2 linked regions of the Homo sapiens genome follow. The protein of the gene in region 2 interacts with the protein of the main gene of each other region in a pairwise test. Each region holds a gene or a part of one and is shown on either strand. Other genes may lie near its edges.

Region 1 (3,823 bases), on a different chromosome or scaffold from region 2:
TTCGCCTGCCTCAGCCTCCGGAGTAGATGGGATTATAGGCATGCACCACCACACCCGGTTAATTTTGTATTTTTAGTAGAGACGGATTTCTCCATGTTGGTCAGGCTGGTCTCGAACTCCGGACCTCAGGTGATTCGCCTGCCTCGGCCTCCCAAAGTGCTGGGATTACAGGCGTAAGCCACCGTGCCCAGCACTTTTTTTTTTTTTAAGACAAGGTCTTGCTCTGTGGCCCAGGCTGGAGTGCAGTGCCACCATCTTGGCTCACTGCAGTTCCGAATGCCAGCCCCCCAGCCCCAGGCTCAAGCAATCCTCTAACCTCAGCCTCTAAGTTGCTGGGACTAGAGGCATGTGCCACCATGCCCGGCTGATTTTTCTATTTTTAGTAGAGACAGGGTTTCTCCATGTTGCCCAGGCCAGTCTCAAACTCCTGGGCCCAAGCGATTAGCCGGCCTTGGCCTCTCAAAGTGCTGGTATTACAGGTGTGAGCCACTGCAGCCAGCCTACCCTGCACTCTTGAGCTGCAAGTACCTATCAAAAGTAAATGGGATTATCATAATGACCTAAATCTCAATCTTGACTTATCACTGCCCTCCTGGCTCAAAAGTAAACCACCTTATCCTGAATTTTATGTTTATGATTCTTCCCTCTCCTTTCCTTTCTTTTTCTTTCTTCTCCTTTCCTCTTCTTTTTCTTTCTTTCCTTCCTTCCTTCCCTCCTTCCCTCCTTCCTTCCTTCCCTCCTTCCCTCCTTCCTTCCTTCCCTCCTTCCTTCCTTTTTCCTTTCCTCCCTCCCTCTCTCCATCCTTTCATTTCTTCTTTCCCTTCTTCCTTTAGGGTTTTATAAATACTGAGTAAATGCAATGATATATTTATGAAACATTTGTTGACTATATAAAATGAAATATCACAAATACTTGCGTTCTTTTACTCCACTTAAGAAATAAAATTCTAACTTTATATTTGAAGGCTCCAATATCCTCTTCCCCGAATATTCCATCTTTCCTCCTCCAACTCCAGTGGTAACCCATATTTCATATTTTTTTAAAGAAAAACTTATTAGGTAAATTTTCAAACAATAGCAAAATGAAACCCGATGTACTCATCCACTTAGCTTCAATAATGATCAACACCTGGCTAACTTGTTTCATCATTACTCCTCCTCCCAGGGATTATTTCAAAGCAAATTTCAGACATCATATTATTTCATCTCTAAATATATCATATGTGCCTCTGATAGATAAGGATTATTTTATTAACATAACCACAATTCCATATCATAATATCATATTTTAAAAATTAACAGTAATTCCTTAATATAGTCAGTGTCCAAATATCCCATTGTCTCATAAATGCCACAATTTAAAAATATTTAGTTTGTTTGGATCAGGATCCAAGTAAGGCCCACAGATTGAAATTGGTTGGTATGTCTGTTAAGTTTCTTTCTCCCTCCTTTTTTCTTGCAATTTGTATGGTGAAGAAACTAGGCCTTATCCTGCAGTATTCACCATGATCAGGACTTTGCTGATTACATTGCTTGGTATCATTTAACAGGTTCCTCTTTCCTGTGTATTTCCTGTGAAGTGGTAGTTGGGTCTACAGGCTTGATTCGTTTTAGTATATGATTACTTCTTAGGTGATGTACAGTGACTTCTTTAAACATCAAACGCAATGGTCTTTTTCCATTTCTTCTCTTCCTTGATCTCACTGCAGCACTTGATACTGTCAAGCTTGACACTGGATACTTCTTCCTTTGTGAAATTCTCTCCCCACTCTTTCTTTCTTTTCTTTCTTTCTTTTTTTCTTTCTGTCTTTCTTTCTTTCTTTTTCTTTTTCTTCTTTTCTTTTCTCTTTCTTTCTTTCTTTCTTTTTTTTTTAGACAGAGTCTCGCTCTGTCACCCAGGCTGGAGTGCAGTAGCGTGACCTTGGCTCACTGCAACCTCCGCCCACTGAGTTCAAGCAATTCTCATGTCTCAGCCTCCTGGGATTACAGGCATGTGCCACCACTGCCGGCTAATTCTTGTCTTTTAGTAGAGACAGGGTTTCACCATGTTGGCCAGGCTGGTCTCCAACTCCTGACCTCAGATGATCCACCCGCCTCGGCCTCCCAAAGTGCTGGGATTACAGGTGTGAGCCACCACTCCTGGCCCCCACTCATTATTTCTTGGATGAGATGAAGTGGTAGGCTCAGGGACTGCCAACCAGCTGCCATTTTAAACTGGAATGCAACGCATTATTATATCAAAAAATCAATCAAAATATCTTTAAATAATGGTTGACTGTTATCCATCAGCCATAACCAGGATATTGGTGGAGTTCCCTAAAGGCCTAGCTGTTGCCACAGAACAAAATGCCATCTATGATTGTAGGTGGTAGGGAAATAGATCTGAAAATACAATTTTCTATTGTGTAGCTCTTCCCACAGTACAGCATATTGTATTAGTCAGAATAGGATAGATTCTGCCGCAGTAACAGTCCCTGAAATCTCTGCAGCTTAAGCACTAAAGTTTGCTCCTTTCTCTTGTAAAGTCCACTGTGGATCCAGCAGCTCTCCAGGACAGCTCCTTTCCAAGGATGCTGTCTGCTTTTATCTGTGACCTTTCCATCTCAACCTGTGGCTTCTAAGATTGCCATAGAAGGGTAAAGAGAAAATGCTGGAAGGTTTTTCACATCAGCTCCTTAAATGCTTCTTTTTAAAGTGGCACATATCATCTCTGCTCACAATCTATCAGTCAGAACATGGCTCTACCTAAACGCATCGGGGCACTGAAATGTGGGGCAGAGTAAGTTATTTGGTGAACGGTTCGCTCCCTTATATGGTTATTTGTCTCTAAATGTATGTTTCCCATTTTCTACCTCCTGAATGTCTACATCCAGGAAATTGGATGGTCTGTCTAAAAACAAACAAGCATTAGAACTGATCATGCAGTGTTATGGGTCCATCAGCTATTGATACATAGTGGCCAGCCCTTTGGGCTGATACCTGTTTTGGTGAGATATCCAGAAATTATACCAAGGCCCCATATTGTACTTAATAGCTTAAACAAACATGTTATCTCAGAAGTGTTGTTTGGGAGATTTTCCCCCTAAAAGTAACACCTTATACTGACATCACACCATTGCCTCTTTTTCTTCCTCCTGACATTATCTTGTGATATCTTTTACCATAGTCTATATATATATATATATTTTTTTTTTTTTTGAGACAGAGTTTCGCTCTTGTTGCCCAGGCTGGAGTGCAATGGTGCGATCTCGGCTCACTGCAATCTCTGCCTCCCAGGTTCAAGCGATTCTCCTGCCTCAGCCTCCTGAGTAGCTGGGATTACAGGCATGTGCCACCATGCCCAGCTAATTTTGTATTTTTAGTGGAGACGGGATTTCACCATGTTGATCAGGCTGGTCTTGAACTCCTGATGTCAGGTGATCCACCTGCCTCGGCCTCCCAAAGTGCTGGGATTACAAGCATGAGCCACTGCGCCTGGCCACCATAGTCTATTTCTAGGTGTTCTCCTTAGACCACCTATATCATAATCAACTGGAAAGTTTATAAAAATTACTGGTTCTGGGAACTATTAGAGATCTTCTGAAACAGAATTTCTTGGGTTAAAGGCTGCATTTTAAACAAGTTTCCTAGGTGATTTTCAGGTGTGCTAAAATTTTGGAACCACTGTTCTATAGTATATGGCATTTACTGCTTTGTAGTGTTACCTTCGTCTTTACATATGTCTCCCTATCTAGATAAGATTCCCTGGGGAGAAATTTATACCTCAGCTATATAGCAATCGTATCCTCCAGATTAAAAAATAATTGGGATGAGGGGTATTAGT
Region 2 (2,755 bases):
AGGAGGATTGCTTGAGCCCAGAAGATCGAGGCTGCAGTGAGCCGAGATGGCGCCACTGCACTCTAGCCTGGGCGACAGAGCAAGACTCTGCCAAAAACCAACACAACAGCAAAAAAAAAACAATTACCGAGGACACTACCCTTGGCTACACCAGCTAAAACCCTCCCATCGATGTGCTGGTCTTTGGATTTGGAGAACTGGGGCAAAGGTCAAGGCATCTCTCAGAGATGCCACCCTCGGGTGTGTGACTGCACCTGTGGCTGCCTCCTTACTGCTCCGCCAGCGTTTCAGTGTTGCAGCAACAAGAGGACAATCCACTCACGTCACTGCACCACAGGGAGGGCAGAAGCAAGGGGGCCGGAGTGGGAGCCGCATGCCCCGGAACTCAGGGCCAGGGTGTCCTGGGTCGTCTTCTATCCCTACGGGGTCCAGGCCCCAGATTCCTACAGAAGGAGTTTTTCACTTAGTCCCTGCATTACTCAAATTATAAACTGAAACCACAAGACCCTGTGATCCAGGGCAAGCCCACCAGCTCCTCTGCATTAGAGCTGGCCAGACAATGCAAATGTAGATTTTCCAACTACACAGTTTATTAGTAAAGTATCTCAACAATTCTCAGAGCAGTAAAAACCAAGGCATCCCCAACACTGCATGCGTGACTAGACCAGCAAGAAGTCCTCAACTTGCACCAGTCCACATGGCAGCAGGGGGCAGTGGTGAGTCCTCCGGAGCCCAGTGCCTGGGCCTGACTGGCCCCATTGATGAGTGAGCTGGATGACAGGGCCGCTGGAGATAGGACAATCGGCTCACAGGGTCCTTTCATGTCCGATCCCCTTAGCATTCCGAGGGAGCCACAGGAACTGGGGCGGTCGTGCAAGCGTCGGCATGAACAGGGGTCTGTTTGGAGTCTGAATGCTCTGCTGCCTCTGGGTGGCCTCAGCCACACTGGGAACGACTGTCTATAACCCTGGGAACTCGAAGTGTTCCATGCTCACTCGGGAAGCACTGATAACCTTCCCCATAGGGGAAACGACTCACAAACACAGGACTCCGTCAGTAGTTTCTGCAGAGAAACTTAAAATCATGAAAAGGGTCATCAATCAACAGATCTCAGAAGTCACTGTGCAGGGACTACTGAGGGCCGCGAGAGGAAGTGCAAACCTCAGCTGAAAAGCAACTCAGGGTGGCTGAGTGAGCCCTCACTTCCCGGACCACCCGCACGTGCAGCCAACACCTCCCAACTACTTGGGCCAAGTCGGCTCTTCGCCTCCAAGTGGAGGCTGCTGGGTCTCTTCGGTCTCCTCCTCGCCCAAGTCCTGTTTCTCCCTCTGGGCGTCGATCCACCTCTGCGGTGCGATCATTTTCTTCGGCCCATGGGGCGGCGGGCCAATGAGAGCCTCAATGTCCTCATAGTTTATCACTTCCTTTTCCAGAAGGGCGTTTGCCAGCTAGAAAGAACAGGCATAGCAGTGTGTGAGTCCCCAGGGCAGACAGAGCATCTCTATGTCCTGGGGAGGTGGCAAGAGGCGTGAGGGCCTGTCTGTGTGCAGGACACCCAGGACAGGCCACTTTCCCAGGGAAGCGGAGGCACGGAGGCAGCTCCGAAAGAAGAATCACCCCCATCTCAACCTCATAAATGATTTTCCGGCGGCCAGCCTCATTAATTTTTCTACTTCTATTCAAAATCTTGGCTTATTTTTGGCAACTGCAATTTCTTTCACCAAACAAGACGTGTGTGTCTACAGGGAAGGAGATGGGTAAAATGCTGAACCCTCCTGATTGAGGAGAGCAGCACTGGGAGAAGGAATCTGAGGCGAAGTTGTGTGAGCTGGGACCTCTCAAGTTGGGGAAGTGAATTTCTGCCATTCTAGGTGGGATCCTGGAAAACACTTGAGACACCGACTGTCCTGTGCCGGTGGACCTGCCCCTGGGGTGGCCTGGCCAGACCACAGAAAACACTGCCACAGCCACATTTCACTGGTTTCTGTGAAGGCAGAACTCTTCCAGATTTTTTGTTGTTGTTGTTGTTAATTACCTGCTCCTTTCCTCACTCTTCCAGATTTTCTAAAGAAAATGGTAACCCCTGAAGCTAGGGTGATTTACCTGTGGCTGTATTGCAAGAGACAAACACTTCCTCTCTAGGGCTGGTGTGGGATTTTACTAAGTTCTGCAACCCACTGAGTGTGTGAGTAGCTGACAGTTCATACACGGGGCAGACACACCACTCCTCAGCCAGTGAGAAGCCTTGCCTGCAGCTTTGCTCCCGTTGTGGCTCCCACTGTGATGTGCCCGAGCTCTGCAGAGCTGCTTTGTCAACCGTGATGAGCATGGGTCCACAGGCAGGCCTGCTTCAGCCGGGGACGGCACCGCCCACACCTGCCCAGAGGCGGCTGCTGCTGGCTGGGGACGACAGTCTAAGGGCCCCAAACACGATCCCCACGTGACACACAGTGCTCGCTTGAAAGACACAAGGGGAGGCTGAAGAAACAACTACCTATCCACTGCCTACCCATCTGTTCACAACATGGGACAAAGAGCCGTGCACCTCTCCTGAGTTCTAAGCAGCAGTTACCAAACCCAGGGACAAAAACGTTCACTCCAGCTCTGCCCACTGTGAGAAACACATCAGACAATCGCAACTGAGGAACGTCCTACAAAACATGAGACCAATCCTCAAAACTGCCAGAGCCCTCAAAACAAGGGAGGTCTGAGGAACTGTCACCCCAGAGGAGCCTAAGAAGATGGGCGATCAAAC

Evidence for each region.
Region 1: the proteins of SPG7 (region 2) and SPATS1 interact in a two-hybrid assay, tested with the Homo sapiens proteins (one large-scale study listed by BioGRID and IntAct).

What each region holds. Positions count from the first base shown.
Region 1 is NC_000006.12:44,362,944-44,366,766, forward strand, and holds part of SPATS1 (spermatogenesis-associated serine-rich protein 1), read left to right. Parts: intron 1-3,823.
Region 2 is NC_000016.10:89,555,580-89,558,334, reverse strand, and holds the end of SPG7 (mitochondrial inner membrane m-AAA protease component paraplegin isoform 1 precursor), read right to left. Parts: intron 2,458-2,755; coding exon of another isoform or gene 2,250-2,457; intron 1,449-2,249; coding exon 1,242-1,448; 3' UTR 569-1,241; downstream 1-568. UniProt on the Homo sapiens protein: Catalytic component of the m-AAA protease, a protease that plays a key role in proteostasis of inner mitochondrial membrane proteins, and which is essential for axonal and neuron development.